2 linked regions of the Homo sapiens genome follow. The protein of the gene in region 1 interacts with the protein of each later gene in a biochemical or structural test. Each region holds a gene or a part of one and is shown on either strand. Other genes may lie near its edges.

Region 1 (3,831 bases):
TACTATTTACATACCATTTACCTTGTATTAGGTATTATAAGTAATTGAGAGATGATGTAAAGTATACTGGAGGGTAGTGTTAGTTATATGCGTATACTACACCAGTTTATATGAGGGATTTGAGCATCCTTGGATTTTGGTATCCATGGGGGTCCTGGAACCAAGCCTCCTTGATATACCAAGGGATGACTGGATTACTGTGTGTTTGTGTGCTTGTTTTTAAGCTTCAAAAGATTATGTGATCTAGGAGTTGTTAGATTTTATTATTGGTCTTAAAAGATAAGCTTAGATGTGTTACTTTTTTTGGAGTTTTAGTTTACAGTGATTCATGAATCGGGCAGCTTCAGACCACAGGAGACATGAAGCAGGTAGAAGTTCAAGAAAGCAAGACAAGCAAAATATTTGATTGGTTAGAAGTTAATTGTGGTTTCTGATTAGTAAAGTTCCTAGTTAGAGGTTAGTTGGAGGTTTCTGATTAAGTTTCTTTTAATTGTGTTTTGGTTTGCCTAAGTAGGAACCCAGAATGCTGGAGCCGTCTCAGCCTAATGGTCTCAGCCTAATGGCTTTCTGATTAATTTTTTTAAAACAGTGTAGAAACTAAAGCTTTATAATGTTTACATAGGAAGATTTTTTTTTAATTTTTATTTTATAAAGCAGAGGAGTGAGTTAAGAATCATTTCAAAGAAAGAATTGGCCTTGGCTGGGTGCAGTGGCTCATGCCTGTAATCTTGGCACTTTGGTAGGCTCAGGTGGGAGGATCACTTGAGGCCAGGAGTTCGAGACCAGCCTGGCCAACATGGTGAAACCCCGTCTCCTAAAAATACAAAATTTAGCCAAGCATGGTGGCACACAGTTTTAATCCCAGCTACTTGGGAGGCTGAGGCAGGAGACTCGCTTGAACCCGGGAGGCAGAGGTTGCAGTGAGCCAAGATTGAGCCACTGCACTCCATCCTGGGCAACAGAGCCAGCAAAAAAAAAAAAAGAATTAGCATTAGACATTTAGTGCCTATGACATACAAAACTATGATGTACTTAGAAGATAGGGAGGAATCAAAGGGAATTTCAAACAGATTCCAGGCAAATGGTAAAATTACTCATCCATAAAGGTAAATGTTAAGGAAACAAAGTGAGATTTTTTTAAAAAGAGACAGGGTCTCACTGAAGTGCAATAGCTCAATCACAGCTCACAACTTTCTAGGCTCAAGTGATCCTCCCTCCTCAGCCATCCAAGTAGCTGGGACTACAGGTGTGCGCCACTATGCCTGGCTAATTTTTTATTTTTTTTTTTCAAGAGAAGGGGTTTCGCCTTGTTGCCCAGGCTGGTCTCAAACTCTTGGGCTCAAGCAGTCCACCTGCCTTGGCCTCCCAAAGTGTTGGGAGTTACAGGTGTGAGCCACCGTGCCTAGCCTGAAATGAGATCTTAAGGAAATAAAAAAGTTTCATTTTGGATATATTTTGGGGATATTTAAATAAAAAATTTTATAGATTTCTAACAAAAATATTAGTATTTTGAGGTGTAAGATGTAGAGGTTATTTCCTACTAACACTTGCCAACATTGACACATCTGCATGTCTAATAACACTTAATAGAGGAGGCCGAACTTCATAAGAGGTTAAAGCTTATACCATTGCATAGTAGCACAGAGTTCAAGTAGAATTTTCATTCCCAATCTAATTCTTCTTTTATTCTTTCCATTTGGGACCAGCTTATACTTGAATGCTAATTTTTTTGTTTCTTATCCACTTGAAATGACAAATGAAGGAAGATATGTGGACATATTTAGAATATTTTCTTGGTTATTTTAGGATAGTATTTAGTATTATGTATATACATTATAAGATATACATTGCTATGTAAGTATATACTATACATGTATAGTATATATCATAATACAGATACTGAAGTATACATTAGTGTATTTTATCTTCAAGGATCCTAATAATGTTATACTCAAAATTTATTCTCTAGATGTGAAATGTCATGGTTAGGTAGGGTACCAGATGTTGTTTCCAGATAGAAGTAAGCAGTATCATTTTAAACAAATATTGAAGTGTACCAAATTTCTCGCACAGTTTCTATAAATGAGAATGTATCCAAAAGACACCAAATCTCTCCTTTGGATGATTTCCTTTGATACTGCCTTGTGGCCACCTGAAAAATGGTAGTTACTTGTTGAGAATGTCAGATGTTATTTAAAAAAAAAAAAAGCTTGAAGCCCCCAAATCTGTAAAAAATTAGACTCTAAAACCTGAAGATATTTTTTTTTAGTGGCATTGTACAAGTAGTGATGCTTTAGGACTACACATTGTTTCATGTTGTGTAGGCTAGTCAGCTTTAATAGAAGTAGCCTTTAGGATCAAAACAACTTTTCTTCAACTTTGAATTTTGACTTAACTGGCTCAGATGAAAACTTAGAACTAAAGCTACTTAGAACTTCCTATTAGTGTTGGCCTGCACAGGATTGGGGTTCAGAAGCTAGGAATGAGAGAGTTTTCCAGACCCTGTTTGTTTATTTCTTAGTTAGAATCTGGCTAAGTTATCACTGTGCATGATGAATTTGTTTTTAAACATCGAGATACTAGGTCCTTTTTTCATTTTTGGAAGCAATCTGTGGTTTTGAATTTTAATGTTTGCAGTTTATCACTTTTTAAACTATACTACCATTGAAGTAATGAATACTCATACTTGGACATTCATTATCCAGTAAAGTGTTAGGTCTCATGCACCGATATGTTAAAATAGCTTCACATCTAATGTGTTATGGTGTTTGTATTTAAATGAGCGTATTTTTAAAATCATCTGTTACTCGGTTGGATTAGTTCCATAGGACAAAATACTGACTTAAAAAATCATTGAGCCTGCATGAGATTGGAATAATTAAGTGGTGGTTTCCTTATGAATATAATTCTTTTGAAAAATACATGAAACACATGAGTATTTCCCCAGTACGTATGGATCTCTTTTTCTTTACAAAGTAGTTGAAACATGGCTGGAAAAAAGCTTATTAACATGAATTGAGTAACTGTAAATGTAAACCTGTCCTATCGGATATAACTTACCTAGCATTAATGTCTACTTTTTCCCCCCCTTTTTTTGCCAACGTAAAGTGGCTAAAAGCCAAGGTAAGAGCCATTACTTATCATTTGATCCACAGTATTTCCTCTGTATTGATAGAGGCTGCAGAGCCACTAAAATTTGAAAACTCTTCTTATGTCTGTCTGCTTTTCCCTGTAGGATTTATGTAGATTATTTAATACTCAAGTTCAGTTCAAATAAGCAACATTTAGCTTGGCTGTGTTAATATATCAATGATATATTGACATCTGTGTTTATATAGGAACATTAATTTTGCTAACATTTATTGCTTTGCTCATTTTTCGATAGTTGCCTTGCTTTCATTGACTTACAATTAGGAGGTTTCCCAGACATCATATGTGACTTTGTTACTGAATTGTTAGGATGAAGATGATTTTTCAGATGCGTATTTGAGCAAATTGACAAGTAAGATCTATAGTTTGTGTTCATGCACACATTTCAAAAATTTTAGGAAACCCAGTGTTTGAATGCAGATAAGTTTGATCTCAGTGAACATGTTTAACAATAAAATAAGATATTAAATCCAGTCATCTCACCTGTATTTGGCTACAATGTGATATAAATGGCATAAAATAATAGGAAGACCAAGTGCAAGTGGTTCCTTGACTTTTTAAACTGTAGTACCAAAGTCTTTATTCAAACTGTCTGGGAATCCTTAATTCACATTCTGATATTTAAAAAAAATAATACATGGTGTTAAAACACCAGGAGAACAATTTGATATAAAAATAAAA
Region 2 (3,831 bases), on another chromosome or scaffold:
AGGTGCTTAACATCACCAATCATCAAGGAAATGCAAATTACAAACCACTATGAAATATCACTTCACACCTATTAGAATTGTCATTATCAAAAAGGCAAGAGATAACAAGTGTTGGCGAAGGTGTGAAGAAAAGGGAACCCTTGCACACTGTTGGCTGGAATGTAAATTGGTACAGCCATTATAGAAAACAGTAGAGAAGTTACTCAAATTAAAAATAAAACTACCATATGGTCCAGCAATCCCTCTTCTGGGTATATATCCAAAGGAAATGAAATCAGTACCACATAAAGAGATCTGCGTTTTTATGTTCATTGCAGCAGCATTCACAATAGCCAAGTTACAGAAACAAGCTTAGTGTCCATTGACAGATGAATGAATGGATAAGGAATTGTGTGAGGTGTATATATACACACATATATACATAAACATATACAATGGAGTATTATTCAGCCTTTAAAAAAGGAAATTCTGACTTTTGTGACAACATGGATGACCCCGAAGGACATTATTTTAAGTGAAATAAGCTAGGCCCAGAAAGACAAATACTGTATGATCTCACCTATCTGTGGAATCTAAAAAAGTCAAATACATAGAGAAGAAGGTGAGCAGAGAGAGGGTTAGGAATAGGAAGATGTTGGTGAAAGATGTTGGCATTTGTGTAGGATGAATAAGTCTAGAGATCTAATGTACAGCATGAGGACTGGAGTTAATAATTGTGCACTGGAAATTTGCCAAGAGAGTAGATTTCACTCTAAATGCACAAAAAAGATGACCGTGAGGAGGTATGTAAAGTGTAGTAACTGTTTCACTATGTATACGCATATCAAACCTGATGTTGTACACCTTAGATATACACAGTAAAAAGAAAGCATGGGCTCAAAATCACAAATCCTACCTCTGTCTTACTCATTTGACAAAAATTTTTTGAGTATATGCTGTGTGTGCTTCCTATGAAGAAGCAGAGGGAGATATTTTTATTGCCATTTCATAGGGATATTTTGAATACTAATATGGAAGGGATTTGTTATATCAAGGTTACTGGTTTTTATTTTTAAAAAATACAAACTATAGACCTTAAAGGACATTTTTGTAAGGATTTAAGAAACAAATTATGGAGATTTTATCTTTAAGATAAAATTCTGAGTTGTTTTAATATTTCATTTTAGATTATGTGAAAAAATTTGGAGAAAATTTTGCATCATGTCAAGCTGGAATATCCAGTTTTTACACAAAGGTAATTGTTCAAAAAATAGCTGCTATAAATGTTTACATATAGAATCTTAATTCTTCTCATGGTTTGGAAGACTGATATGTTTTAAAGTAAAAATTGTGTAACATCTTCATCATGTCTCTTAAACTTGAGTATTACAACTTAATTTTTGCCACTCAAAATTCCACATATATTTCAATAAAATATCAATATTTAGGTGGCTATACTGCATAAGATGAATGAAAATCTATACTAAAGAACATTTCTTTCATCAACAATTTAATGAAAATCAAAAGTAGCTATGGTTAATTGTCTTGTTAACTTAGGTATTGAAAATATCAACCCAAGTATGTTATTTTAAATTTCTAGTTGAGGGGCAAAGGAAGAATATCAGTCTATATTTTTCATTAAATTATGATAATTGGGAAATTTAAGAATTTAATATCCCCTTAAATCAGATAGACAATATTCCCAAGATTTCTTACTCTCTTTCTAACATTCTAGGATATGTATGAAAGGGCACAGTTGTACTCAACCCCAAATCTCTCAGTTTTCTTAAAAACACACTGTGAATTCAGGAATGTTTTTTGACTCCATGAAGATCAGGCACTATATCAAGTTTGGGGTTGACAGTGTCTGCACATATTAACAGTTATATTAAAATGCTTACAAAGAAAATGCTTTCTTCAGTTTAAGTTGACTTTTTTTAAGTTTAGGATTGTTTAGGAGTATAGAAATATGCTAAAGATATTTAATTGCTGAAAGTGTTCATACTATACCAGGCAAGGGCATGCTCATTCCAATCTTCTCCTAAATTTTCCTCTGTATAACAAAATATGCCCCACATTCCATTGGACTTTTTTCCCTAAGCTAACATTATTAGAAATGTTTTCCCTAAGCTAACATTATTAGTCAGGGGTTCTTTGCAAATAGAAGTAAATTAAGTCTACTTTTTATTCTTTGGCAACACATGATTATCTCCATAATTAGCACTAATGAATTACCCACATACGATTTTCTTTAATAGGAACCACATTGCCTTTCTCCCAAAAGCTTACTCTAGCGTTCAGTACTTGTCCCTTCAACTTTTGAAATCCACTGATAAATGCATTGAATGAGAGTTTCAGAGTTTCTTCTCTGAGATTTCGCTTTTAGAAATCCATTAGCCAACTTCTCTGGCTTTTTTTTTTTCCTAGTATGTTTTAACTTCACAGAATATTCCTACTTCAGGAATTGATTATTATAAAAATATGTTCTCTTCACTATCGTGTATCTGGAGGAGGTTTGGGGTGGTGAGATTAAAGTTTAAATAATAATAGTTTTTTTTTTCTTACAGGATTTAATTGTGATGGGGGCCCCAGGATCATCTTACTGGACTGGCTCTCTTTTTGTCTACAATATAACTACAAATAAATACAAGGCTTTTTTAGACAAACAAAATCAAGTAAAATTTGGAAGTTATTTAGGTACTATAAAAATTGACAAACTTAAATGATCTGTGCCTTACAAATACTAGTACTGTAATTATAAATAAGGAAAATGTATTTTCCAAAGATCTAAATGGCCAGTATAATTACAGTAATAATTAGGCAGTTCAGAAACTGTCTCTTAAGGATAGGATTTATGAAACTTCAGTGAACTCAGTATTTTACATTTACACATGTGACTAAAATCATCAATATATAATTCTTAATAGAACTCCTAGTTTAGTTTACTCTTTGTAGTTCACTTTAGGAAACACTAGTAAGTTTCTATCTCTATGTAGTCAACTGATTATACAGGTTGTTTCTGTTGAGTGCCTCCCATATCTCAGGAACTTTTTGTGAGAACTTTACATGAATTAACTCATTTAAACATCTGCATAAGTAAGTATAGTTTCCTTAAGCACCAACTGAAAGCCAGTGGTACTGTCCACCACATTCTGGATGAGGGGCTCCATGAAGCACATGGGTCTAAAAACAGCTCATTGACCTTCACCTCATAAGTTCTTAGAATATTTCCCAGAGCTTAACTATTTTTATCATCTTCCTCCTCCTCACTGTCATCTCATAAGTCAATAGTAGGATACTTTATCATCTGTATTTCAACAGAAATGCAAACTTTTCTGGCATTAATGTCCATTACAAGAAAATAAATGCTTTTCCTATAGATTTTCAGAAAATCCAGCTTTGTTTAAACTGTATGTGTGTCAAATGTGAGCATCTTACACTCAGAAATAATTATAAAATAAGCACTCTTTCTTTCTATTCAAACAGAAGAAATTTCAAGTAGAAGAATTTGTTACAATTCAATGTTTTCTTGTTTATGATGAAAGGATACTTTGAAATCGTTCAAGAAATATAACTTGTTACGCCTTTTATCACATAAAATACGAACAATTTTTTGTCATCGAAAAGTCATCACAAAGATTTGGTGGCAAAAAAAGTTGAACTTCAGCAAGATGTTTATTTAAAGTTTAAAGTTTTCATTTCCCAATTGAGATTTTATATTTAATATACTCTAAAATATGTCTGTTGTAATCCTAGAAACTGATTATACTGCACCAGATGTAAAGATGCTATTTTCAATTTCTAGGACTCGGAAATACATACCATATGACTGCAGTTTTGTAAAACATATCA

What was found.
Region 2: the proteins of ABI1 (region 1) and ITGA4 form a complex in vitro, tested with the Homo sapiens proteins (one study listed by IntAct).

Annotation. Positions count from the first base shown.
Region 1 is NC_000010.11:26,770,367-26,774,197, reverse strand, and holds part of ABI1 (abl interactor 1), read left to right. Parts: intron 1-3,108; coding exon 3,109-3,123; intron 3,124-3,831. UniProt on the Homo sapiens protein: May act in negative regulation of cell growth and transformation by interacting with nonreceptor tyrosine kinases ABL1 and/or ABL2. May play a role in regulation of EGF-induced Erk pathway activation. Involved in cytoskeletal reorganization and EGFR signaling.
Region 2 is NC_000002.12:181,477,591-181,481,421, forward strand, and holds part of ITGA4 (integrin alpha-4 isoform 1 preproprotein), read left to right. Parts: intron 1-1,166; coding exon 1,167-1,234; intron 1,235-2,546; coding exon 2,547-2,676; intron 2,677-3,831. UniProt on the Homo sapiens protein: Integrins alpha-4/beta-1 (VLA-4) and alpha-4/beta-7 are receptors for fibronectin. They recognize one or more domains within the alternatively spliced CS-1 and CS-5 regions of fibronectin. They are also receptors for VCAM1.